2 linked regions of the Homo sapiens genome follow. The protein of the gene in region 1 interacts with the protein of each later gene in a pairwise test. Each region holds a gene or a part of one and is shown in the gene's direction. Other genes may lie near its edges.

The links.
Region 2: the proteins of TIGAR (region 1) and HK2 interact in binary tests that used the Homo sapiens proteins (3 or more experiments, as listed by UniProt).

The regions. Positions count from the first base shown.
Region 1 is NC_000012.12:4,311,351-4,324,483, forward strand, and holds the start of TIGAR (fructose-2,6-bisphosphatase TIGAR), read left to right. Parts: upstream 1-9,862; 5' UTR 9,863-9,921; coding exon 9,922-9,953; intron 9,954-12,989; exon of another isoform or gene 12,990-13,133.
Region 2 is NC_000002.12:74,868,840-74,881,203, forward strand, and holds part of HK2 (hexokinase-2), read left to right. Parts: intron 1-3,460; coding exon 3,461-3,580; intron 3,581-4,436; coding exon 4,437-4,532; intron 4,533-5,004; coding exon 5,005-5,104; intron 5,105-5,426; coding exon 5,427-5,610; intron 5,611-8,326; coding exon 8,327-8,482; intron 8,483-9,848; coding exon 9,849-10,082; intron 10,083-11,425; coding exon 11,426-11,730; intron 11,731-12,364. UniProt on the Homo sapiens protein: Catalyzes the phosphorylation of hexose, such as D-glucose and D-fructose, to hexose 6-phosphate (D-glucose 6-phosphate and D-fructose 6-phosphate, respectively).

The DNA.
Region 1 (13,133 bases):
TTCTAGCCAATGTCCCCCCCAGTGCTTGCTACTTGCCTGGAATATTATGGACTGTATCATACATTTCTGTATTACATACAATCATTGTGACAGAGTCAGGATGCTGTGGTGGAAAAAGGCTTAGGTAATAAGATGATCTGACTTTGAATCCCAGGGCTGCCACTTAGCTTTACAAGCTCTGAGTCTCTGCTATTCTTTTATAAAATCTCTCTGGATTATTAGAAGGATTAAATGAGGTAGTCTATGTAAAGTGCCTAATACATAGAAAGCTTTAACAAGAATCAGCTAGTCTGAACATATGCAAACACACCAAGGACCGTGTTCATTGCTTTTGAAGGCATTGTAGATGCAATGTTATTTTCCCAAAAAGTCAGGGGTGGAGGTGGATATGGGTTTTCTGTGGATCCTGATGAGACTACTATCAAGAGCACAGCAGTGAAACAAAAGCATTTACAACTCTCATAATATCCCCTTGGTGCTGCCGCCCTTCTTCCAGACAGCAATGAACTTGGGCTTGGGGAGCGTTCTCTTCCCCACTAAGTAACAGGCTAACAGGCAAGGCATGAAAAGGGATTAGAGGATGCATGTATTCAAATAAAGGGGAGTTCCCCAGAAGCACGGCAGGCTGAGAAGGCATCTTTCGACTGTCCATCAGTAGGAAAGCTGTTTGACTGGCAGATATAATTTTTTTGGAACCAGCAATAATGGGGAGCTATTGGTGACAGATGTCAGATGTTGGCAGAGCAGCTGCCAAAACAAGTCTCCCTCCACCTTCAGACATCAAGCTGATGGGGACTGGGAGTCCCTTCGCACTTGGGTCATTGGTCACATTATTATTTCTCAGTCGCTGGACAAAGCAGATGGTTTACCATGTATTTGTGATTTTCTGTTGGCCTAGAAATTCTGTTCTTCCATCAGGGTACAGCATGTAATCAATTATGACAGTGGGTGGTGCAAGAAAATCCCTGCCAGTAAAAGCCCAAGACTTTCTCTTTTATTAAGTCTGCATAAACCACTACAATTTCCAACTTCAAAGCAATAGAAGAAAAAAGCAAAGTAGTGGTGTTATAAATAACTTGGGTAATCACAAAAACCACAGTTCTCAGTTGGTCCCAAACACTCTCAGTCTGTACTATCTGATGTCAGTTTTGTCTGTCCATTTTTATTCTGAAACTTAAAATCCTCTTGTCTCTATTCTAGTAAGTCTTAATAATATACGTATATTTTTAGACAGAGTCTTGCTCTGTCACCCAGTCTGGAGTGCAGTGGCACGATCTTGGCTCACTGTAACCTCCACCTTCCAGGTTCAAACAATTCTCCTGCCTCGGCCTCCGAAGTAGCTGGGACTATCATGCACAGCTAATTTTGTATTTTTAGTAGAGACAGGGGTTCGCCATGTTGGCCAGGTTGGTCTTAAACTCCTGACCTCAAGTGATCTGCCCGCCTTGGCCTCCCAAAGTGTGCCGGGATTACAGGCATGAGCCACTGCACCCTGCCTCTATTCTGGTAAGTCTTAAAGAGCTTTATCTTAGAATCATAAAGTGACCTAATTAAAAATAAACAGAACAAATACCAGGAACATACTACCCCTCAACTAAGGTTTTTTTTAAAAAAAAAATTCTCAGCTGTATTCTATTACATAGTAAAAATAGTAAGTTGCCTTGCTTTAGTATGTGTGAGTAGCCACATAGAACAGTTTATATGTTCTCCATCACCCACCCTCTGGATAATTTTCTTTGTGAAAGACACCTTGCTTATTTGTATGCATGTGTCTCAGGAAATAAATTCTTTAGTAATAGAGCAGAACAAGCATTTTTAACATGATAACTACCAACTAGAGAAACTCTTGACATAAATTACACATTTTTTCTTGTCTTTTAAAAATATGTATGTATTTTTTCTTAAAAATCAGGCTCATAAACGAATGGCTTTCTACTCTTTTTTCATGTAATCTCCTATCAGGGGAATGTTATCATACCATTAAATATTCTGTAAGAACATGATTTCTAGGGCTGGATACGGTGGCTCACATCTGTAATCCCAGCATTTTGGGAGGCCCAGGCAGGAGGATCACCTTAGGTCAGGAGTTTGAGACCAGCCTGGCCAACATGGTGAAACCCGATCTCTACTAAAAATACAAAAATCAGCTGGGCGTGGTGGCACATGCCTGTAATCCCAGCTATGTGGGAGCTGAGGCAGGAGAGTTGCTTGAACCCTGGAGGCGGAGGTTGCAGTAAGCTGAGATGGCGCCACTGCACCCCAGCCTGGGTGACAGAGAAGACTCCGTCTCAAAAAAAAAAAAAAAAAAAAAAAAGAAACAAACCAAAAAAAAAAAAAGAAAAAAAACCATAGATTCTAATGAATTGTTTGGGCTCCTACAATATATCTAGTACTACTTGAGGTGCTGAAGACACAGAAGGGAACAAGCCAGTCCCCACGGTCAAGGAATATATATCCTGCTGAAGAAAGACAAGCAATGAACCTACAAAAATGTTCATAAATGATATAATTTCAGAATAAAATCGGATGATGGATAGTGACTGGGCAGCCTACTTTGCTTGAGGGAAGACCTCTTGAGAGTGGGACTTCTGAGTTGATACCTGAAGGCTGAGAAGGAGGCAGCCATGCAAATATCTTGGGAAAGAGCTCTGTGAGCAGAAGGAACAGAGAATGCAAAGATCCGGAGGTAGGAATGAGCATGACGTGGTCTACGAACAGAGAGAAGCCCTGACGGCTGGAGCTGGATGAGGAGGGGCAGCGAAGAGAGAATTGTAACTGGAGGGCCAAGAGGGGCCATGCCACATAGGCCTTGCAGGAGTTGGGACTTCATTCTAACTGCAATGAGAATTCAATAGAGAATTCTCCAGCAAGGGAGTGACACAATAGGGACATCTCTTCAATGGCTGAGTACCAGAGTAGAGGCAGCAGAGCTATGCCAACAGGCTATCACAGTAATCCAGACGAGAGGTGATGAAGGCTCAGCCTGGGACACAGTGAGACTCCAGAAGTGGTGGATTCAGGACATAATTTGGTGATAGACCCCATAAACTTTTTTTAAAGGTTTTGGATAGATAGCTTTTATCATTTATTTATTATTGAAGATATGTACGACACAATAAATAAGCTTGCTTCAGACGTATATATAGAACTCTGTATCCAATAATGAGTGAATCCACATTCTTCACAAGGACACACGAAACATTTCTGTGAAATGCCTGTGGACTAGTCCACAAAGCAAGTCTCTGTAAATTTCAAAAATGTATACCCTTGAAAATCTCTGAAGTCCTGGAGATTTAAGTCTGCAACTATCTTAGTCTTACTACCAAGAATAGCCCCTAAGGAAAAAAAAAAACCCTTTCAATAAAAAAAAGATAAACAAGAATAATATAAATTTCACAGACTCCAGCTAACCAGCTTTTGGTCACAATGTAATTAATTTCACTCTTAATGCATTGCTGAAAATATTTAAATGCCTGGGGAACTGGCTCCAACCCACAATCTCCTCCCCTACCCTACATTCCAAATAGATCAGGCATTTTACACTTGGCTCATCTTCGGTGAAGACAGTAATTAATCTTTATTTGAAAACAAGATTTGGGAGGCAGACGCAGGCAGATCACCTGAGGTCAGGCGTTTGAGACCAGCCTGGCCAACATGGTGAAACCCCATTTCTACTAAAAATATAGAAAAATTAGCTGGGCGTGGTGGCGGGTACCTGTAATCCCAGCTACTCAGGAGCCTGGGGCAGAAGAATCGCTTGAACCTGGGAGGTGGAGGTTTCAGTGAGCTGAGATCACGCCACTGCACTCCAGCCTGGGTGACGGAGCAAGACTCTGTCTTAAAAAAAAAAAAAAAAAAAAAAAAAAAAAGCAAGAAAACGAGTAAAATCCAGCACTCACTGCATTATTGAGCCTACAGAAATCTATGATGAATTTGACAGGGAATATTAGGATAGGTAAAGAATCAAGGGTTTCATGAGCAGTCAAGTGGAGGGTGTTACCATTTACTGAGATGAGAAAGACTTGAAGACCAGCTGTTTTTAGGGGTAAAAATGGAAGGTTCTGTGTGGACAAAGTTAGCCTGAGATGTCAACTATAGACCCAAGCGTAGATGTTGAGTAGGCAACTATAACAGATAAACGAATGAGGAGCTCAAGGGAAAGGCCAGGCTGGGGATATAACTAAGATCTATACACTGGATTAGATCATCTAGCTGACTGCACAGTTGAGTAGAGAAGAGAGCCAAGGGCAGAATCCTCAATACTCCAACATGCACAGGGTTTATGGGATTGTCTACCCCCCAACAATTCATGTGTACCTCACGTTTCCCATCACCTCTGCAATTTGGTAGGGCCACGTGAGTGGCTCTGGACAATGAATGAAGGAAGCATCTAAGGACTGGTTCAAGACCCTCAACTATTCTCATCTCCTGCCTCAAAAATCGTGAATTCTTATGTTTCTGAAGTTAACATGTCTGTCAACCCTAGGTCCTGAATGAGTATGTGGCTTTAAGACCCTTTCTGATCCACGTCAGACATATAGCATGAAAGAAAAACAAACACTTGTGTGTGAAGCCATGGAAATTCCAGAGTTAATTTGTTACCTCGGCATAACGTGGCCTAATCCAGAATGCCATCATATGATGCGCTTCAACAAAGCACCATTTTTCATTTTTTTAAAAAGGCGTTATGTGATTTGAGAGGCTGTCAACAAAATATATTGGTGGATGGCTGGGTGTGGTCGTTCATGCCTGTAATCCCAGCACTTTGGGAGGCCGAGGCAAGCAGATCACTTGAGGTTAGGAGTTCGAGAACAGCCTTACCAACATGGTGAAACCCTATCTCTACTAAAAATACAAAAATTAGCCAGACATGGTGGTGCAGGCCTGTAGTCCCAGTTACTCGGGAGGCTGAGGCAGGGGAATTGCTATTCAGGAGGCTGAGGTAGGGGAATTGCTTGAACCCGGGAGGCGGGAGGCGGGAGGCAGGAGGATCACTTTAGCCTGGGAGGCAGAGGTTGTAGTGAGCTGAGAGCACACCACTGCACTCCAGCCTGGGGCAATGGGAGTGAAACCCTGTCTCAAAAAAAAAAAACAAACATATATACACATATTTTTTATATATGTATTTATATACGTATACACACACATACACACAAATACATGTATATACATATATACATATATGTACACACATCCTGCTTATAAAATGAACAAGGAGTTCACGTAAACTAATTCAGATAGAACCTGGAAATATATATATAGGGGTATTTCTGGCTTCTCTCTGAATATATATGGATACACACACACACACACACACACATATATACACATACATACATATATGGGTGTTTCTAGCTTCTATCTGAAATACAGTTTAAGTGAACTCCCTGTTCATTTTATAAGTGGAAGGGCAATCCCTGAACCACTGAGTGAATAATGCAGGACAATGTCCACTATTTTGAAGACACCTCATTTTTCAACCTGGTTTTTGCCCCTGATTAGTTTTTCGTTGCTGTTTTTTTTTTTGTTTTTTTGTTTTGTAGCCGTGGTCTCGCTCTGTCGCCAGGCTGAAGTGCAGTGGCACGATCTCGGCTCACTGCAACCTCTGCCTCCCGGGTTCAAGCGATTCTTCTGCCTCAGCCTCCTGAGTAGCTGGGACTACAGGTGCACACCACCACTCCCAGCTAATTTTTGTATTTTTGGTAGAGACGGGGTTTGCCCATATTGGCCAGGATGGTCTTGATCTCTTGACCTAGTGATCTGCCTGCCTTAGCCTCCCAAAGTGCTGGGATTACAGGCATGAGCCACCGCGCCTGGCCCCTGATTCTTAAAATTTATGAAGAATTGTTTTTTAATTTATTCCTTAGATAATTAAAAGAAATAACATTGGTGGATGCCTTGCAACTTTCTAAATTTCTCCTAAAACAATAATCCTCTCCAATATGTCAGCTTTTTTAAATATGTATGCTTCATTAGACAAACTGATCATAACAGGTATTCTTCATTCATTTGACAGATTTTAATGGAATCTCCACTGTGTTCCAAACATTTTCTTAGGAACCAAGGAAGTAATGAAATAGAGCCAGTAGTTACCCTCATGATTTATAGTTTTGAAACCTGGAGTATACTTATCTGGTCTCAAACTCAGTTCTGAGATCTTGAGAGATGGGAAATTAGTTTTTGTTTGTTTGTTTGTTTTTGGAGATGAAGTCTCACTCTGTCGCCCAGGCTGGAGTGCAGTGGCATGATCTTGGCTCTGCAACCTCTGCCTCCCGGGTTCAAGCAATTCCCCTGCCTCAGCCTCCCGAATAGCTGGGATTACAGGCACCTACCACCACGCCCGGCTACTTTTTGTGTTTTAGTGGAGGAGGGGTTTCACCATGTTGGCCAGGCTGGTCTCCAACTCCTGAGCTCAAGTGATCCGCCCGCCTCGGCCTCCCAAAGTGCTGGGATTACAGGCGTGAGCCACTGTGCCTGGCCCAAGAAATGGGAAATTAGTTAACCTGTATGTGCCTTAATTCTTCATCTGTGAAATGGAAATAACTCCTACCTTGCAGAGTTACTGTGTGTATTAAATAAGACAAAATGGGAAGCTGTTTTTATTTAGGCGTTAGAAATGCACTTGGACCACCTTAAAGTGAAAGAGGTTTTACTATACAAACCGGAACTTTCAAGGTATCTGGGACTATGGCAGTTTGAGCGACCAGTGACTGGGTACTCCTTGCATTACTCACTTGTGTCTGTGTCTCTCTGTGTGTCTCTTTGCTTCTTCCATTGACTTTGCTTCTTCGTACCCTCTCCTCTGTTCTCTCACTTGTATTATTTATGGCTTCTGTTTCTTCACAGCTTCAATCACCATGCCCCTTCATAGCCCTAACTCTATCCTATGATTTCTTTCTGTGCTTTCTTTCTGCTTCACCCCTCACAGATAACTACTTAATTTCATTTTTTCAGCTCAAACTTCCAGGAGAATCTGCTGGGATGATTCATTCATTTGGGCATTCAGAACACGGACACGGACACACACACACACACACACACACACACACACACACACACACACACACACACACGATATCTGGGCCCCACTGTTAGGGCCCTCTGAATTATCCCTCCACTCTCATCCTGAAAATGCCTCCTGTTGACCTGCAAGCTGTTAGAGATGCTGAATTTGGTCCCCACTCCAATCTACTAACTCCAGAATCTACATTTTAACACTATGCCCAACTGCTTTGTGTGCACGTTCGAGTTTGTGAAGCATTGCTTTAAACTGCTAGCTCTCAGAACAGCCACTTGTATGTTGGAAACAGCTGGGGATTAAAAGCATACAGATACTGCTGCCTGAGTCTTTCCCCCAGAAGTTCAGATTTGATTTTTCTGGGGTGTAGCCTGGCAAAGGTCTCCAGACGATTCTAATGTAAAGATAGGTTTGAGGACCTCTAAACTAGTTCTGTGTCACCGCTGACCAGTTGTGTGAGCCTAGACAAATCGCTGTCTCTCTCTCGGCCATATTTCTTTTTTTTTTTTTTTGAGATGGGGTCTTGCTCTGTCACCCAGGCTGGAGTGCAGTGTTGGAATCTCGGCTCACTGCAACCTCTGCCTCCCGGGTTCAAACGATTCTCCTGCCTCAGCCTCCCTAGTAGCTGCGACTACAGGCACGTGCCACCATGCCCGGCTAATTTTTTGTATTTTTAGTAGAGATGGGGTTTCACCGTGTTAGCCAAAATGGTCTCTATCTCCTGACCTGCAGATTCTCCTGACCTGCCTTGGCCTCCCAAAGTGCTGGGATTACAGGCGTGAGCCACCATGCCCGGCCATATTTCTCATCTCTAAAGTGAAGATAATGTAGCCTATCCTGTCTACCTTAGAATTGTTCAGAAGGCCAAATGTGATATTACATGTAAGACTGTTTTGAAATGTGTGCCTATGAATCTAAGTATCTCATTCATCTCTTCTCTAAACACATCTTTTCATATATAAGTGGGGATTCAAGGAAATAAATGCATTATGAAATACAAGAATTTAGGTAACAGTGCATGGAAGACAATGTCACCTAGCTAACATTATTGTTACTTGTGTCACATTGCTAGGTACTGCTATCCCAGTTTACCTGTCACAAAACCCAGGGTTAGAGAAGCTCATGTTATAAATAAACTTTCAGTGCCACAAAAGAAATAGCACTCGAATATAAAATTTTCTTTTTAATTCTCAGCAAGGCAAGGTACTTCTATAGAAGGGTGCGTCCTTACAGATGGAGCAATGGTGAGCGCACACTTGGACAAGGGAGGGGAAGGGGTTCTTATCCCTGACGCACGTGGCCCCTGCTGCTGTGTAGTGCCCCACCGCACAGGCTAAACTAATTCCGATTGGCTAATCTAAAGAGAGTGATGGGGGTGAGTGGTTTGGCGGGAAAAACAGTTATGACAGAGCAGGTAATCTGAGTCAGGGTGGCGTAGGTAATGGGAAGGAGTCAGGGTGGAGTAGGTAATGGGAAGGAGTCAGGGTGGAGTAGGTAATGGGAAGGAGTCAGAGTGCAGCAGGTAATCGAAAAAGGTTGTGGCCGGGCGCGGTGGCTCACGCCTGTAATCCCACCACTTTGGGAGGTCGAGGCGGGCGGATCACGAGGTCAGGAGATCGAGACCATCCTGGCTAACACGGTGAAACCCTGTCTCTACTAAAAATACAAAAAATTAGCCGGGCGTGGTGGCAGGCGCCTGTAGTCCCAGCTACTCGGGAGGCTGAGCCAGAATGGCGTGAACCCGGGAGGCGGAGCTTGCAGTGAGCCGAGATCACACCACTGCACTCCAGCCTGGGTGACAGAGCCAGACTCCATCTCAAAAAAATAAATAAATAAATAAAAAAGAGAAGGTTGCTTTAGGAGGAAGTTAAGTTTAAAAGTAAAAAGCAAAGAATTGAACATACTGACATATTGATTCTTTGAAAAGAAATTTAGAACTCATATCTAACATGAAGCAACTCCCTCAACGTTCTGAAGGCTATTAAAGAGAAATTATTCATCTGAGGCTTGTTAAAAACGGCAAGACTTTACTCAAGACTACTGCAATAGGTGAGAGAGACTGAATTCGACTCTAGAATACAACCGGGACCAGTGGAGATTTATAGCCAGGGGGCGGGATGGAAGGGATGAAAGAGAAGATGGGAAATTACCAGAACGTGGTAAGCTATCTGGGGGAGGGGGAGGAGGAACTTTACTAGATATCAAGGGCCTTAGAAGAGAGCATCAACAGTGAGGTCTCTCTTGATAAACAGGCTTAGCAGGATTCTTTGGTAAAACCAGGCTCAGCAGGCCGAGGATGCCGTCTAGTATAGAAAAGGCCTCAAAGGAGCCCGACTAAAGTTTGGTCACGGAGGGCGTCTGTCCCGGCGGAGTTGGGGTGGGTGGGTCTAAGTCTACAGACCTGGCCGACGCTACGTCCCTAAGGTTAGGGACTAACAGACCTCATAGAACACAGTCTGTTGGTCGCTGTACACCCGTGAGGGGTTCATCACAGTGGCCAGCTATAAGACGAACGGTTGCATTCCAGCCTCAATCGCAACAACCACAAATCAGTGCGCCGGCTTCCTTATCTGCCCCGAACGCAGGCTGCCGGCTATCGAGGGAAGGAATCCTACCGCGGACTCCGCGGGCGGGGCCTCCCGCACCTGCCGCGCGCCAATCACAGGCCGGCGCGCAGGGGCGCAAGCGCCGCAGCCCTGGGCGGGGCCCCCGTGGCTCCCTCGTCTCCCCCGCCCCGTCGGCCTCGCCCGGCCCTGAGTGGCCTTCGGGGATGACGTGCGAGGCCGCCTCGGCCTATGGCGGCGGAGCCGGCCGGCTGCTTGGCGGAAGTGGTGTGGGGGAGGTAGCCCGCAGTGCAGGGGCAGCGCGGCGCGGGGCCACCGACGGGACGCGGCTCCGGGAACATGGCTCGCTTCGCTCTGACTGTTGTCCGGCAGTGAGTATGGCTGTGGCAGGATGTCTTTCTCTCTCTCTTCCTTGAGTGTGTTGGAGCGGGTGAAGGGAAAACGGGTCCACCACCCTCTCCCCTCCCTGCTCGCTCCAGCCCGGGAGGGCTGGCTTGGAAGCGCTTTTTCCGGGGCGCTTGCCCTGGGGCCGTCCCGTGTCGCCCCTCCTCTCACCCCAGCAGCCCCGAGGGACGACGGCAGGTCTTAGATAGCTTCGTTCCGTGTTTCAGATAAAGTGAGGCCCGGAGGAGCAAGGGATCGGGGTTCGTAGGCACTTGGTGGCTGCACCAAAAACGGTGCCAGACATGTCCACAGACTTGTCTGGGTACCGATTTTGCTCCCCAGCAGATTGCAAAGAGTTTGCAGAATTGCTCGTCCATGGCTGATGTTTTTGATGCCGGCTGCCTTCCGCTATCCTCTCAGTTTCTGAGGTTCCCCCTCGTTTCCCCAGGCAGTCAGCCCCCCAGGCACATATATGAGACTTCTTTCTTTTCCCCAGAGGTTACAGTTCTGGGAGAGAAAAGAGGATCACAGCTCTGATCTCAGCAGACCGTATCATCCCAAATAAATGTTTTTATTATCATAACGTTACACGGAGCTGCATGCTGATAGGTCTTTATGTATTTGCCAAGTGTTAACGGGAGGTGAAAATCAGGGTAGTTAAGAGCACAGATTTTTATTTTTATTTTTTTTTTTTTGTGAGATGGAGCCTCGCTCTGTCACCCAGGCTGGAGTGCAGTGGCGCTATCTCTGCTCACTGCAACCTCCCGCCTCCGGGGTTCAAGCGATTCTCCTGCTTCAGCCTCCCGAGTAGCTGGGATTACAGGCATGCGCCACCACGCCCGGCTAATTTTTGTATTTTTAGTAGAGACAGGGTTTCGCCATGTTGGTCAGGCAGGTCTGGAACTCCTGACCTTAAGTGATCCGACTACCTCGGCCTCGCAAAGTGTTGGGATTACAGGCATGAGCCACCGCGCCCTGCTAAGAGCACAGATTTTTCAGGCAAGGTAGACCTCGGTTGGAGTCTGTTCTCCAGCTAAGAGCCAGGTAGCCTGGACTTAAGTTTCCTGATATGCAAATGATAGTGCGTATCTCACTACTTTAATGCGAGAATTAAATGGGGGACAGGTAAAGTGTATGATGCAACAGGGAAAGAAATATATCTGAGAAATAACTTCTATAAAGAAAGCTCCAATAAAAGTGCAGTTGATTCCCAAATACGAACGTATAGTTCAGCACACCAGCATTTTGAGTAGGTAATGTGTGCCAGTAGACTGGATCATACAGATAAATAACATACCATTTCTGCATTCATGGAGCTCACAAAGGACATTAATATGATTTAACTTTGTCAATTGACTTTAACAGCTATCTTTTCTGGCCTGTCCTTCCTTTATAAGAAAGATAATCTTAAGAATCCTCTAAAATTGTCTGTTTAGGATTAGCAGGATTTTAATGGCTACCTTAGAAATCTAGTTCCTCACTATCTCTTCTCCCACCCCTCTCGGTTGTATAGAATGCCTTGGGAGAATTCTTAACTTACTAAAGGTCACACAGCTAATCGGTAGCAGAACAGGAACTAGAGGCCTGATCACCCTTTCTTCCAATGTTAGTGCACTTTCTAGACGCCTGACCCAGCCAGCCCAGTGTCATATTTATAATTGAAACTCAGACCATCAAGGTGGTTCACCCCTGTAATCCTAGCACGTTGGGGGGCGGAAGTGGGTGGATCCCTTGAGCACAGGAGTTCAAGACCAGCCTGGGCAACATGGTGAAACCTCCTCTCTACAAAAAAAAAAAAAAAAAGCTGGCTGTGGTGGTGCATGCCTGTGAACCTAGCTAATAGGGAGGCTGAGGCAGGAAGATCACTTGGATCATGTGAGCCTGGGAAGTGAGGGCTGTAGTGAGCTGTGATTGGGCCACTGCACCCCAGCCTAAGCGACACAGTGGGACCCTGTCTCAAAAAGAAAAAAAAGAAAACTCAGAAGTTGTAGAATATTTGGGGTAAGGCAACCCCTAAAAAGTAAGATGATTCCTATTTAGATTCCTAATAGACAATAGTCATATAAATATGGATTTTATTCCCTTTCTGCTGCTTAAAAAGGGTTTGATTCCGGAGGCCCTCATAGGAATCATTTAAAAAATAAGTCTTAATAAATGATTATTTGCCAGGCACTGTTGTAATTAAAATCTGACAGTTTAGTGAGTTAAGGACTGATATCCTCATTTTTCACATGAGGCAGCTGAGACAGAGACGCCTTGTAACTTGCTTAAAGTCACATGGCAAGTTGAGGAAGTAGGAGTTTAACCAAAGCAACTTTACCACTCACCGTCTTTTGTTTCCTACTTAATTTGTTAAAACCCGGTATTTGTAGATTACTTGAACATCACCAGCCATTTTTGAGGCTACTTTTTAGTCTCTTAATATAATTGTGTGGAGTTATGACAATAGTTTATTTTGTTCTGTTTTATGTGTAGGAAGATGGAGTGAGAGGGCTGGTTCAATGCTTTCCGGTCTGGATCCTCCTGCTTCTTGCCTTCAGAGTTCTCAAAACCAAAACCTGGTGATTCTTTCAGGAAAAGAAGTGATTTTTAAATTTGACTCATTATCACCATAGTTAAATGTAATGACTTTTTGAAGAGTTAGATAATTTTATTGGACTTACCTCTTCAGATAATGCAAAAAAATCTTTAAAGCAATTTAAGTTCAACAGAACCTGTTAGGAATCTTGTGCTGTTCCTGTATGTGGTTTATCTTTCTTCATACTTTGAAATGAAAGTACCAGTGTGTATCATTTCTGGAACAGACTGCCCAAGATTCCAGAATTCAAGTCTATCATCATTGTCAGACTATAACTTCTCATGAGCTTATGGCACAGCATTGTTGAAAACTCCAACACGTGTAGGTTGGCATTACCATCACCTATCCAGCACTACTGAAGGGTCTGGTTCCTTGGAATGTTGTAGGTGTTTGCAGTGAGTCCCCGGCAAAACCATCCATTTAACTTCCTTTTTTTTTTTTTTTTTGGAAATATGTGTGCCTTTATTAGCTGAGCCACTACTTGAGGGGGATGAAGCGGGAGGAGTGGGTGGCCCCGATGCCGGGCCGGCAGTGCTTCACCAGCTTATAGGTGATGGAGAACTCGCCCAGGTAGTGACTGATCATCTCC
Region 2 (12,364 bases), on another chromosome or scaffold:
ATTTTTAAGTTTTACAAGAACAACACCCTCCCTGTTGCTTGTATCCTGACAACATGCAGGGGCCAGGCACCTTGCAGTCCCTGCAGCGTCATCCCTAGAGCCTGGCAAGGACAATGAAGTGCGTCTCTGCCAATTGAGAAAAAAAATCCATTTTAAACATTCAAGATGTGAGTGAAGTTCTTCTTGAAAAAAGCTTAAAATTGCTCAGACCACCTAGTTAGAGGGTATCAAGAAAACCTACTCTCCATGCAATATATAAGAAAAACAGTATAGTCCGGATTAAAAAAAAAAACAACTATGAGACCCACCTTGAAGAGCATTAAAACTGTTGAGATATTAGAAAGATTTTAAGTAAGTGAAAAATGCTATTTAAAAATGAAAAGGAAAGAAAGCTAGAAGAAAATATAGGTATCTTTGATCCTAAGGAATAGGAAGACTGCTGTGTACCTAAAAGCAGCAGAAAACACTTGGAAAAAAGGCTGAAAGGAAGTTCATTGTGGCTATTTTAGTGGTGGAATTACTGGTGCTATTTTTCCCATATTTTCCCCCTTTTTTGGTACTTGGTATCAGTATTTTACTTAAAGGAAAACAAATGGATTGTAAATATACACTTTGGTTAAGAACAAATCTTGGAATCCCAAACTTGCAAAGGTTTTTGAAGAATTGTGAACCTGGGCAATGGGGGTCCTTCGGTAAAGTCTGTCTTCCGGCACATTAACTTCTCCTGAAGAGCAGTGGATTGCAAACCTGAATGGCAGCCACTTTAAGATTTTAAACGTATATCTCGTGGAAAGGGAAGTGAGCAGATTTTCAGACCAGTAAGGAAAAGGAAACCATTTTAACTTCATAAAATGATGCCCTTTGAGCCTTTTTATGACAGGAACGTGTTAGCTCTTTCTCTGCATCTTACCCATAGATCCTCCTCAAAGAGAACGAGATTGTCTTCCAATTCAAGGAAGCAGAAGGTCTCCTCTTCCCACTTGAGAAAAGATGTAGGTTCTTTGAACCCAGCCCTAGCCAGTGGAACTTCTTGCAGCAATGGAACTGTCTCCTATCTTCCCTGTGCAATATGATAGGCACTGACCCTGTGGCATCGAGCCCTTGAAGTGTGGCTGGTGTGACGGAGGAACTGAATTTTTAAGGTCTTTTTTCTTTTCTTTTCTTTTTTTTTTTTTTTTTTGAGACAGTCTCACTCTGTCACCCAAGCGTGACACCCAAGAGTGCGGTGGCACCATCCCGGCTCTCTGCAATTTCTGCCCCCCAGGTTCAAGCGATTCTCCTTCCTCAGCCTCCCGAGTAGCTGGGACTACAGGTGTGCACCACCAGGCCCGGCTAATTTTTTGAATTTTTAGTAGAGACAGCTAATTTTTTGAATCACCATGTTGGCTTTGAGCTTCTGACCTCAAGTGATCTGCCCGTCTTCGCCTCCCGAAGTGCTGGGATTACAGGCAGGAGCCACTGCGCCGGCCTGTTTTAAAAATTCTAATTAATTGACATAGCCACAGATGGCCAGTGGCTACTATATTGGGCAGGGCAGTATTTAATGCTTCTTCACGGTCTATTTTTCTCTACCTTCCTATGTTAGGAGCGCAACTGGAAAGAAAGCAGTGATCAGAGCTGGGGGAGGAGAAACCATTTTGCTTTTCCCCCTTCTAACCCCCACCTCCAGTCTTTGATGATTGGCCTTATCTCTTTGCACAACTTCTGCATCTCCCTTTTTTTTTTTTTTTTTTTTTGGGATAAAAACTATTTGTACTAAAGATCATTTTGACTAGAGTGCCAGGAAGAAGGTGCTGGGAATTTGTTTAATATACGTATCATATAATTCATCTCTAGTCACCTTCCCGACAGAACAGAATTTGCTGAATATATCCCTATTTTCATGTTAAAATACTTGAACTCTGTTCAAGGGAGTTGGCTCACCTGCACTGGTGATCCCCATGGCAAGAGAGCCTTGTCCTCCCCAGCCTTTGCTCTTGAAAATGTTTTGGTTTGGAGGTCGAAGGTTCAGCCTCAGCTGTTGTTAACTTTGCATGGGATCAGACAGAGGGACAGACAGAATGGATGTGGGAAGTTTAGTTAGATCTGGCCATCTTCCAGATTGGGGTGGCCTTGTCTTCCTGGGTCCCTCCTGCTGACCATACCCTAGGCATCAGGAGATCCAACAGGTCTGTCAGTTTCCCTCTCCCAACCTCTCAGTTCCTTTATAAATGTAAGAACTTTCTGTGGTTTGGCATAGTGGTTCTCAACCTACTGCTCCAGGATCACCTGGAGGGCGGAAGGCTTGCTAACAGATGGCTGGGCCCCACCCCCAGAGTTTCTGCTATAGTCGGTCTGTGGGGGCGGGCCTAGACCCTAGAATGTACATTTCTAACATGTTCCCAGGTTAAGGGAGTGAGGTTGCTGTTCCAGGAGCACACTTTGAAAAGCCATGGTTTAGTCGAATCTTCTTGCACCTTCCTGGATAGGAAAAGGATAGTTGACCTCTTATCCACCTTGGCTTTTAGATTTTGCCACGTAGTCAACCTGGCCCTTGGAATCTGCCCAGCCTCTTTGGCCTCTGCTTACTTTTTACACCTGAATGCCTCTAGTCTCAGCCTTCACCTAAAGGGTCAGCAGCTTCTCTTTGAGCGTGTAGGGTGGGGCAAGAAGGACGCCAGGGGATTGTGGGCTTTGGGGCTGATTGAAAGCCTGGCTTATTATGAATACAGCTTTTTTAAGGCTTAGGAGCTCTGGGTCCTGCACAGTGAGTGCGTGCGGTCACGGTTGTGAGGCTGCTCACCCACAAAATGTGATTTATTTCTCAGCGCTCTTCATGGACTTACTGGATGTTCTGTTTAGAAAGTTAGAAAACAAAGATAACTTCTTTGAATTGCCCTCAGGAGATTAGTTTTCTAGAATGGAGAAAAAAATATAAAAATTACTTGTTTTTGTTAAGTTGGTTCATAGAATGCCAACAGAGAATGCTGTCCCTGCAAACCACCCCCCACCCCATCACCAGAGACAGGGATACTAAAATACTTCTTGGCAGCAAGATGGGCTGGCCTTTGGTATGATCGTCAACTGGGCTTCCATGTCAATGGGTTTCTGACAGGGCCACCAAAGAATGTTCTGTTCCCCGGGCATGAAGTGACTTTCTGATTAATGTTGGCCATGATTTCCCCTACCTCACAGGGTTATCTTGACAGCAGTTTAGAAAAATGGCTTAAGTAGAGGACAATATTTAGTGGGCAAAAACTAATGTTAAGCCTTTATGTATTGACTCATGTACTCCTTTTCATAACTCCATGAGGACAGGTCCAGTTATAATTCCCTTTTTGTAGGTGAGCAAATGAAGATATCAGAGGAGATATGGGTTTTGCACACATTCAGCTAGTTACGTGCTGAGCCTGAAGTGCATGCCCTTAATCTCTATGCTGTTCGACCTCTCTGCTCACCACCCTGTGTCATGTATCCTTAGCTGTTTGACCACATTGCCGAATGCCTGGCTAACTTCATGGATAAGCTACAAATCAAAGACAAGAAGCTCCCACTGGGTTTTACCTTCTCGTTCCCCTGCCACCAGACTAAACTAGACGAGGTAAGATGGGCTCCTCAGACACTTGTTGCTTCACTCTTGGGGCTGGGAGGGCTGAGAGGGACTTCTGAGCCACCTGCTGTGGTGGTGGTGGTAGCACTGGAGGATTGTGGAGATGAAGTTCTGCCTTTCTGGGTGACTGTGTATGTCGATGGGGGGGCTGGTGAAGAAATCTGGGGGGTTGGGAGTGCCCTTTATCACCCTCTCTCCCACACACATTGCACAGTATCCTTATCCCCTCCACAGAAACAGGAATGAGAAATCAGGAACTCCCCAGTCTAAAGTGTTATGATAAAGACCCTTGGAAGAAAGATACTTGGAGAGTTAATGATGTAAGGACACAAGTACAGTCATGTATTGCATAACAATGGGGATATGTTCTGAGAAATGCTTTATTAGGTGATTTCACTTATGTATAAACATCATAGAGTGCACTTACACAAACCTAGATGGTATAGACTACTACACACCTAGGCTGTATGGGACAGCCTGTTAACTCCTAGGCCACAAATCTGTATAGCATGTTACTGTACTGAATGCTATAGGCAATTGTAACACAGTGATATCTGTGTATCTAACTAGGCAATAGGAACTTTTCAGCTCTATTATAATCTTGTTACCACCGCAGTATACACAATCTGTCACTGACTGAAACATTGTTATGCGGCACATGACTGTGTCTTATAGTGCCAGTTGTCCTGAGTTTCTTTTTCCTAGGCTAGCCAGGAAGTAACACACAAATTCAATCATGACTTTACCCCAGTGGCAGAGGTCTCTGCTAATGACGGAGGTTTGAGGGGTGTGGTGTGAGTTTCAGTTTTAGTGGGAAATCAATATTCACTTCTTGGTCCCTTTCCAGAGTTTCCTGGTCTCATGGACCAAGGGATTCAAGTCCAGTGGAGTGGAAGGCAGAGACGTTGTGGCTCTGATCCGGAAGGCCATCCAGAGGAGAGGGGTGAGTGGGGTGGCAGGAGCTTGGGGTCTGTGGGCTTTTCTGGGTCCACCCTGAAGACTCCCTGAGTGTCCTTGACTCATCATTGTTTGCTTACGTGGAGCTTAAGGAGAGTTCTCTTTTCCCTGACACATGTACTCAATAATTTTGTATGCGATCTGCTGCTTTGGGGGTTTTTAGATTATCAAATGGATAAATAATCTTAGCCTTGGCACAAGAAAAGCTCTTTAGTTCTTAACCTGAAGAAGACTTGAATGTGATTTCCAAGTAAGAAAGTTGGAATGATGTTGACATGGGAGTGGAATGGCTCAGAGAGAGAATGAATTAAAAGTCTTATCACAGGAGGAGTTATGGGGAGGGAGGGGGGAGAGAGAGAGAAGGAGGAGGAGGAGGAGGAGGAGTGATATATAGCTGGTGTTAGGAAAGTCGCCCTCTGTGATGATGAAGGTCAGAGCCCTCCCATTTGTCTCCACAGGACTTTGATATCGACATTGTGGCTGTGGTGAATGACACAGTTGGGACCATGATGACCTGTGGTTATGATGACCACAACTGTGAGATTGGTCTCATTGTGGGTGAGTGAACACCGTGCATGAAGGGCCCGTGCTGGCCAAGGGATGGGGGTGTGGGCTGGAAAGGGAGAAGGGGCCCATGGGCTGGGTGTTCCTTTGTAGTTCATATTAGAAGATAATGGTCCAGTCACTTTGGAGAGCCGAGCAGGGACTCATGGAGTTGGGGGTGGCAGAAGATTAGACCATGTATTGTGATGCCCCCAGAGTCTGCAGTGAGAAATCCCAGCCATCCTGGCCGGGCAGTCTCGGGACAGTAGTATAAGAGGGAAGAGGGGTGGGAAGGGGCCGGAGCAGGCGTGTGCATAGCCGTCCCTTGTTTTGGCAGGCACGGGCAGCAACGCCTGCTACATGGAAGAGATGCGCCACATCGACATGGTGGAAGGCGATGAGGGGCGGATGTGTATCAATATGGAGTGGGGGGCCTTCGGGGACGATGGCTCGCTCAACGACATTCGCACTGAGTTTGACCAGGAGATTGACATGGGCTCACTGAACCCGGGAAAGCAACTGTGAGTAGGCCCTTCCTGTGCGAGTGGGCTTGGCGGGGGCCTGGAGCTGAGTCTGGGGCTGGTCGGGGCCAGGGGGTTGTTTCTTTACAGTCTTACATCCCCAAAGCTTGCCAAGGTGGCCACTGGTCATAGGAATGTCTGTGACTATAAATTGCTGAGAGGATCTAAAACAGAGAGCAAGCGGATATACCAGATTATAGCTAATAATGTGTTTCCTTCACAGGAGTCATTTTGGAAGGTTCTATTCTGAGTGTAAGTGGGTGGCCCTGCTCTTTCTTTCCACCTTCTATTTGTAAATTGTCCATGGGAACTGTGAGCCACCTAAGGAAAGTTGTGTTGAGGTGGCCAAGATTGGGGTCTCTGAAAGCTCCTTTCATAGCTCCAACTCCATCACCACCCAGAGGACAGGCTGACAGCTGGCTGCTCATTGCTGCTCCCTGGGGTCCCAGGGCCTCCTGCTGCAGCTGCAGGCAGACCCATGGCCCCTGGAGACATTGGCTGAGGAGCTTCCTTGGCCTCCTTCACTTGGACCTTGGCCCAACTATGTCCTGGGATGGATTGGAGGAGGGGCGTCTAGCATTTTGGATCCTGAATATTGTATTCTCCAGCCTGGCCTGCCTTTGTTTTTAGTTGCTTTTATCTCTTACAAAACCTTATTTCACCCTCACAAACATTTGCCAAATGTGCGTGTGAAAGATCTTGAAACAGGGATTGCTTCAAGGTCTGAAGCAGTTGCAAAATATTTTGAGCAATACAGATCATCTCTGGTCTTGTGACTGTTGTAGAAAAGCTTTTCGTGCAGATCTCTACTTGGACAGGAAAATTGAACCCTATAAATCAAGTCAGTGGTGGGTAACCCAGGAGAGTCCTTGCTTTCGTTTTTTTTTTTTTTTTTTTGAGACAGAGTCTCTCTCTGTTGCCCAGGCTGGTGTGCAATGGCGCAATCTTGGCTCACCGCAATCTCTGCCTCCCGGGTTCAAGCGATTCTCCTACCTCAGCTTCCTGAGTAGCTGGGATTACAGGCGCCTGCCACCACGCCCAGCTAATTTTTGTATTTTTATTAGAGACAGGGTTTCACCATGCTGGCCAGACTGGTCTCGAACTCCCGACCTCAGGCGGTCCGCCCTCCTCGGCCTCCCAAAGTGCTGGGATTACAGGCGTGAGCCACCGCGCCCGGCCTGAGAGTCCTTGCTTTGTCAAAGCATGGTTTATTTATCTAAGTCACAAGCTTGTTTCACATGTTGAAATGAGTCCTTTACTTGAAATTTCTGAGGATCATACTGGTTGTGTCTGCCATGGCTGATGAGAGGTTTATGAGCTGAAAAGTCACTCAGTGCCTGCCTCCATGAATGAGGCACACCCAAGTCATTCCGAGGAACTAAAGGCCCTTTCAAATGTCAAAAGACAAATTTGCCAGCCAGACCATGACAGCACACCCCCGGCTTATCCTTTGACACCCACCAAATTGTCATCCATGGTAGCCCTGAAGTCACTACAGACAATTTTTGTCCCCTCTAATATATTTCCAAGTAAGTATCTTCCAAATGTTGACTGGAACAAAGTGTTTTTAAAAACTAGAATAAAAACTTAGCAACACGGAGTTCCTTACTGTTGAAGCCAGGCTCCCATCCACGCTGGTTTCCTTCTCCTGAAGCTCTGCCTGTGTGGGTGCACTAACATTTAAAATGCGCGCTGTCATCTTCACAATTTTGCCAGCTCTCAGTTAGCCCTGATGCTGCTGTACTCGGCCTTGGGTCTTGAGCAGGCTGCTTCCTGGAGGCCTGGGTTTCCTCTCGGAAAGGTAACCTTGGAATCCCTTCCACATCTCAGTCCTGGGCCTCCTCCTCGCTGGGGCTCATCCTAGTTAGTGGCAGCAGGCCCATGTGCCTCCTCTAAGACACAGGTTCTTTCTCAAACACCCAGAAATGGGCCTTTTGTCAAAAAGAATTATCACCAGGGCTTGGTTTCCTCTCAGTTCTAGTCAGAAAGACCAATTATGAAAGAAAACAGTGCCACCTAGTGTTAAAATTAAATCACCGGACCGCACTGCTGGTTTGGGGGCCGTCCCCTGCCTTTCTAAAACATCTTGTCACCTGCCTGCTTAGAAGCCTGTTTCACTCCCAGACCCCTGAGACCTGTCATTTAGAGCTCGGAGCCCAGTGCAGATTCCTCTATCCCAACCTGCCTTTATAATGTTGCCCCATCATCCCCTGCCCCAGGTGGTTTTCACACCATTTTCTCTGGAGCCCATGAACGGCTTGCAGGGGTGGACAGTATGAGCTGATGAGTTTCTAGGCCTGTGCTACATATCTAATCAGATCGCCTTTTTTCTCTTGTAAATAAATATTGGGCTATGTAAGATATTAATTTTAAAAATGATTTCCTGGCTAGAGAAGAATTTTAAAGATTACCACCCTACGCATAACTTTACCTAAAATACAGGCTGTTCCAGAATGTTCCATACTCCCTGTGTGTTTCATTTGGCTGCTTAAGTTTCATTTATTCTTCTCCATAGGTCAAGGCCCATCAGCCTGCAGGGACAACCCAAGCCAGCCCCTCTGAGCCGTCACCTCTCCACGTATCTTACTCCTGGGCCGTGCTGCACACATTAACCCTTAGTTGTGAAGTTGCACGTGTGCGCATCTTGCTTCAACAGGGAAGCTATGAGTACATGGGCAGTGGGGACTTTATGTTTTTGGTTTGTGTCTTCCGGCAGGTTTGAGAAGATGATCAGTGGGATGTACATGGGGGAGCTGGTGAGGCTTATCCTGGTGAAGATGGCCAAGGAGGAGCTGCTCTTTGGGGGGAAGCTCAGCCCAGAGCTTCTCAACACCGGTCGCTTTGAGACCAAAGACATCTCAGACATTGAAGGGTGAGCTTCTGGCCAGCCCCCTCTATTTGCTGGATCACCACACGAGTTGACGGGTAGTTGGGGAATGAGGAGGGGGCTGTACCTTTTGACTCTTCAAGTATAGACTGCAAGAGGGTCTCACATGACGTGGACCATGGCGGGCCTGTGGCTTCACTTCACTTACCAGTCTCCACTCTTGTCGATTTCGATTGTGATTGCTACCAGTGACTCATGGTACTGGGAACGGTGGTTGGCCTCCATATGCAGGGACTTGGGCTGTTGCACTGGGTTTAAAGCTGGAGGACCCCAGAGGGCCCCCGAAAGACTTAGCTGCATCTGCCTCCTTTTCCTTCTCCTGAAGCTCTGACATCTGATTCCCTATTGGCAATTCTCAAAAAGGACTCTGTCATGACCCCTGCTTCATAATAGAAAGCTAGGTCTTTGAATTGGCCAGAGATATAGCTACCCAATTAATTCTAATAAGCAGAGCTGGGGCCTGCATTTTCACAGCCCAGCAGGGGCAAGAGTGAGGATGGCTTGATTTTTGTTGTTGTTAACAATATCCCAAGAGTCAGGCGGGCCTCGTTTACTGTTCTTGAGATTTCCACTTGTAGATTGAAGAAGTCCTGGTGTTTCAGGGACCAGATGGTGGAGAGGAGGTGTCTTTGGAGCCAAATGGAGCAGTGGAACAGTGCCAATGACTTTGTTTTAAGGGGAAACTCTTGAAGGAATGGGGCCTACTTGTTGCTATACCCCAAGGTGATGCAAGTACCCCAAGGTGATGCAAGATTTAGTTCCCTTGAGAAGGGTGCTAAGGTTATAGCACTAGCCCCTTACCAACCATCTTTAGACACAAGCTAAAGCAGTGCCAAGTCCATGGTGAAATGCAATAGACTCCTACTGCTTTAGAGAGAGAAACCAGGTGGGCATCACCGCAGGGTTCACATGTTGAGAGTGGCTGACAGCAGAGACACTGTCTGTCTCCCCTAACACAAGCAGATGTAACACAAACTCTCACACACACAACTTGGTGGTAAAGCACCAAGAACAGGGCCTTGTTTTTACATAGCACATGCATAAGAAATACTTGTGTTTCTCAACTCCGTGTGTCTCTGTGTGTGTGTGTGTGTGTGTGTGTGCGCACGCACATGCGTGTGCGTGTGTGTGTGGTGTCTGGGAGAGGAGCCTCAGGGTGGCTGTGCTATATTTTGCACCCCCTTCCTCCTCCTCCTGCCCCTGCACAGGTGGACTAAGCAATGAAGAGGGATTCTGTCCCCACTGGGTGGTGAATTTGCTGGAACTAAAGGGCTTCCTTGCCACCCCCCGACACACACACTGGCCACAGTGGGTCAGACACAGGCCCACATGCTATCTTTCTGTTTCCCAGGGAGAAGGATGGCATCCGGAAGGCCCGTGAGGTCCTGATGCGGTTGGGCCTGGACCCGACTCAGGAGGACTGCGTGGCCACTCACCGGATCTGCCAGATCGTGTCCACACGCTCCGCCAGCCTGTGCGCAGCCACCCTGGCCGCCGTGCTGCAGCGCATCAAGGAGAACAAAGGCGAGGAGCGGCTGCGCTCTACTATTGGGGTCGACGGTTCCGTCTACAAGAAACACCCCCAGTGAGTCAGTGTGCAGGGCCTGGAGATGCGGAGTTCCTGGAGTACCTGGGGCTGAGTGACTCCTCATGCCAGCTCCATTTTGCATTTCAGGGGTGGTGTGGAGGGACCATAGAGCTGAGGGTCTTGGTGGAATGAAAGTTCCCACCTGGGCAAGGGGGAATGGGAGGAAGTCATATCTGGTGTGGGTGGAGGTGATTTCTGAAGGCTACTGATGACTCGGGCTCTCCGCAGAGCTCCTCTGGCTGCTGGACACTCTCTTTGCCACCCTCTTGTATGCGTTATTGTTCCTGTCTTTACTCTTAGAATTCTTGGTGATTCCTGCAGGTGCTATGTCCTCTGCCAGGGACCACCCCAGCCCAGTGAGGGTTACCAGCTTCTCTGGCTGACCTTGGTATTAAATTGATCCTGCCCTGTCCACATTTTGATCCCTCAGGTCATAGGTACCAGAATATTCACATGTCAGCTGAGACCTGGAAGATGTCTCTTTATTGTGCCTACTTATTTCCCCATCATTTTCACCTAATAAGAATGCCAGGTCAATGTGCCTTTGTTTTCTTAACTTGTCGGTGCAGGAGGCCTCAGCCCTGAGATTCCCTCTTCCTACCCAGTGTTGCAAAAACTCGAGTGTGCACGTGAATCACATGGGGATCTTGCTAAGAGGCAGATTCTGATCAGAAGGTCTGGGGTGAGTCTGAGATCCCGCATCTCTAACAGCCCCCAGTAGGCTGCAGCCTACTCCTGCACTTGGAGTAGGAAGGCCCTGGAGACCATGGCTCCAAGTGGCCACTACCCAGAGAGTTCCTGGCTGAACACGTTGTCTTTAGCTGTGCAGACACCTTTGGGATCATTGGCAGAAACTGGCAAAAGAGAGGCTAAAGTCCAGAAGAGCATCTCTAGCTTTTAATTTTGGGTCTTTCCCAGACAGCAGCTAGTGAAATGAGTGATAGAACAAGACAGATAGGTGGCATCAGAACCACCTAATACCACAGGGCTGCTCCAGCAAAGAGGCTGATGGTACCATGTTGGGCAAGGGAGCAGTGGCCAGGGGGCCTTCTTCAGTGAGGAAGAGGAGGTCTTGTGTGGCTGCATGTAGGGGACAGTGGCTTATTAAAAGGTCTTTTCCTTTCATTGGCGGGGGTGAACCAATCCTGGGTGGTCATAGTTGATATGGTTCTTGTAGTGGTTCCTAACTTGGGACAGTGGAGAGAGGATGTTTAGGGCAGCACCCACTCCTGCAGGTGCCTTTTGGCATTTGGATTAAGGCGGTGGGCAACTGTCTAACTATTTGCACCATTGACCCTAACCATGGACACCTGTCTCTTACCCGCCCTGGGGAACTGCAGTTTTGCCAAGCGTCTACATAAGACCGTGCGGCGGCTGGTGCCCGGCTGCGATGTCCGCTTCCTCCGCTCCGAGGATGGCAGTGGCAAAGGTGCAGCCATGGTGACAGCAGTGGCTTACCGGCTGGCCGATCAACACCGTGCCCGCCAGAAGACATTAGAGCATCTGCAGCTGAGCCATGACCAGCTGCTGGAGGTCAAGAGGAGGATGAAGGTAGAAATGGAGCGAGGTCTGAGCAAGGAGACTCATGCCAGTGCCCCCGTCAAGATGCTGCCCACCTACGTGTGTGCTACCCCGGACGGCACAGGTACACGGCAGGGTTGCCACCTGGCTCACATGGTGGGCCTTTGTCCTGGTGTTGATACCCTGGGAGGGATCCCTTAGCATTAGCATTGGACATTTGAACCAGAACACGTTTCTTCAGCCGTATTACTAGGGAGTTCTAGTCTTTGATAAACTCAAACAAGGTGCTCCTCTGCAAACAGTAGTAATGGTCAACACTTATTGAATGCTTACTGTGTGTCAAAGCACTTTATGTGTATGAGCTCATTTAATCTTTGTTAACTGTTAAAAAATATTAGCAGTTAATTTTATGTATTCACCTATGTTTGACAGAAAACTGAGGCGCAGAGAAGTTAAGACACCTGCCTAAATTCACACAACTAGAAAATGTCGGAGCTGGGATTCAAACCCAGGAATTCAGGTTCTAGAATCTGCTCTTGCAATCACCACATTGGTCTGAGTCAGGGTTGGCAAACTATGGCCCATGGGCTGAATCTGGCCCACCACCTGTTTTTGTACATAAGGTTTTATTACACAGCCATGCCCATGCGTCTGCACGTTGCTTATGGTTGTTTTGCACTGTCTTGGCAAAGTTGAGTGGTGGCAGCAAAGACTGCATGACCCACAGGGCCTAAAACGTTTGCTGTCTGGGCCTTTAC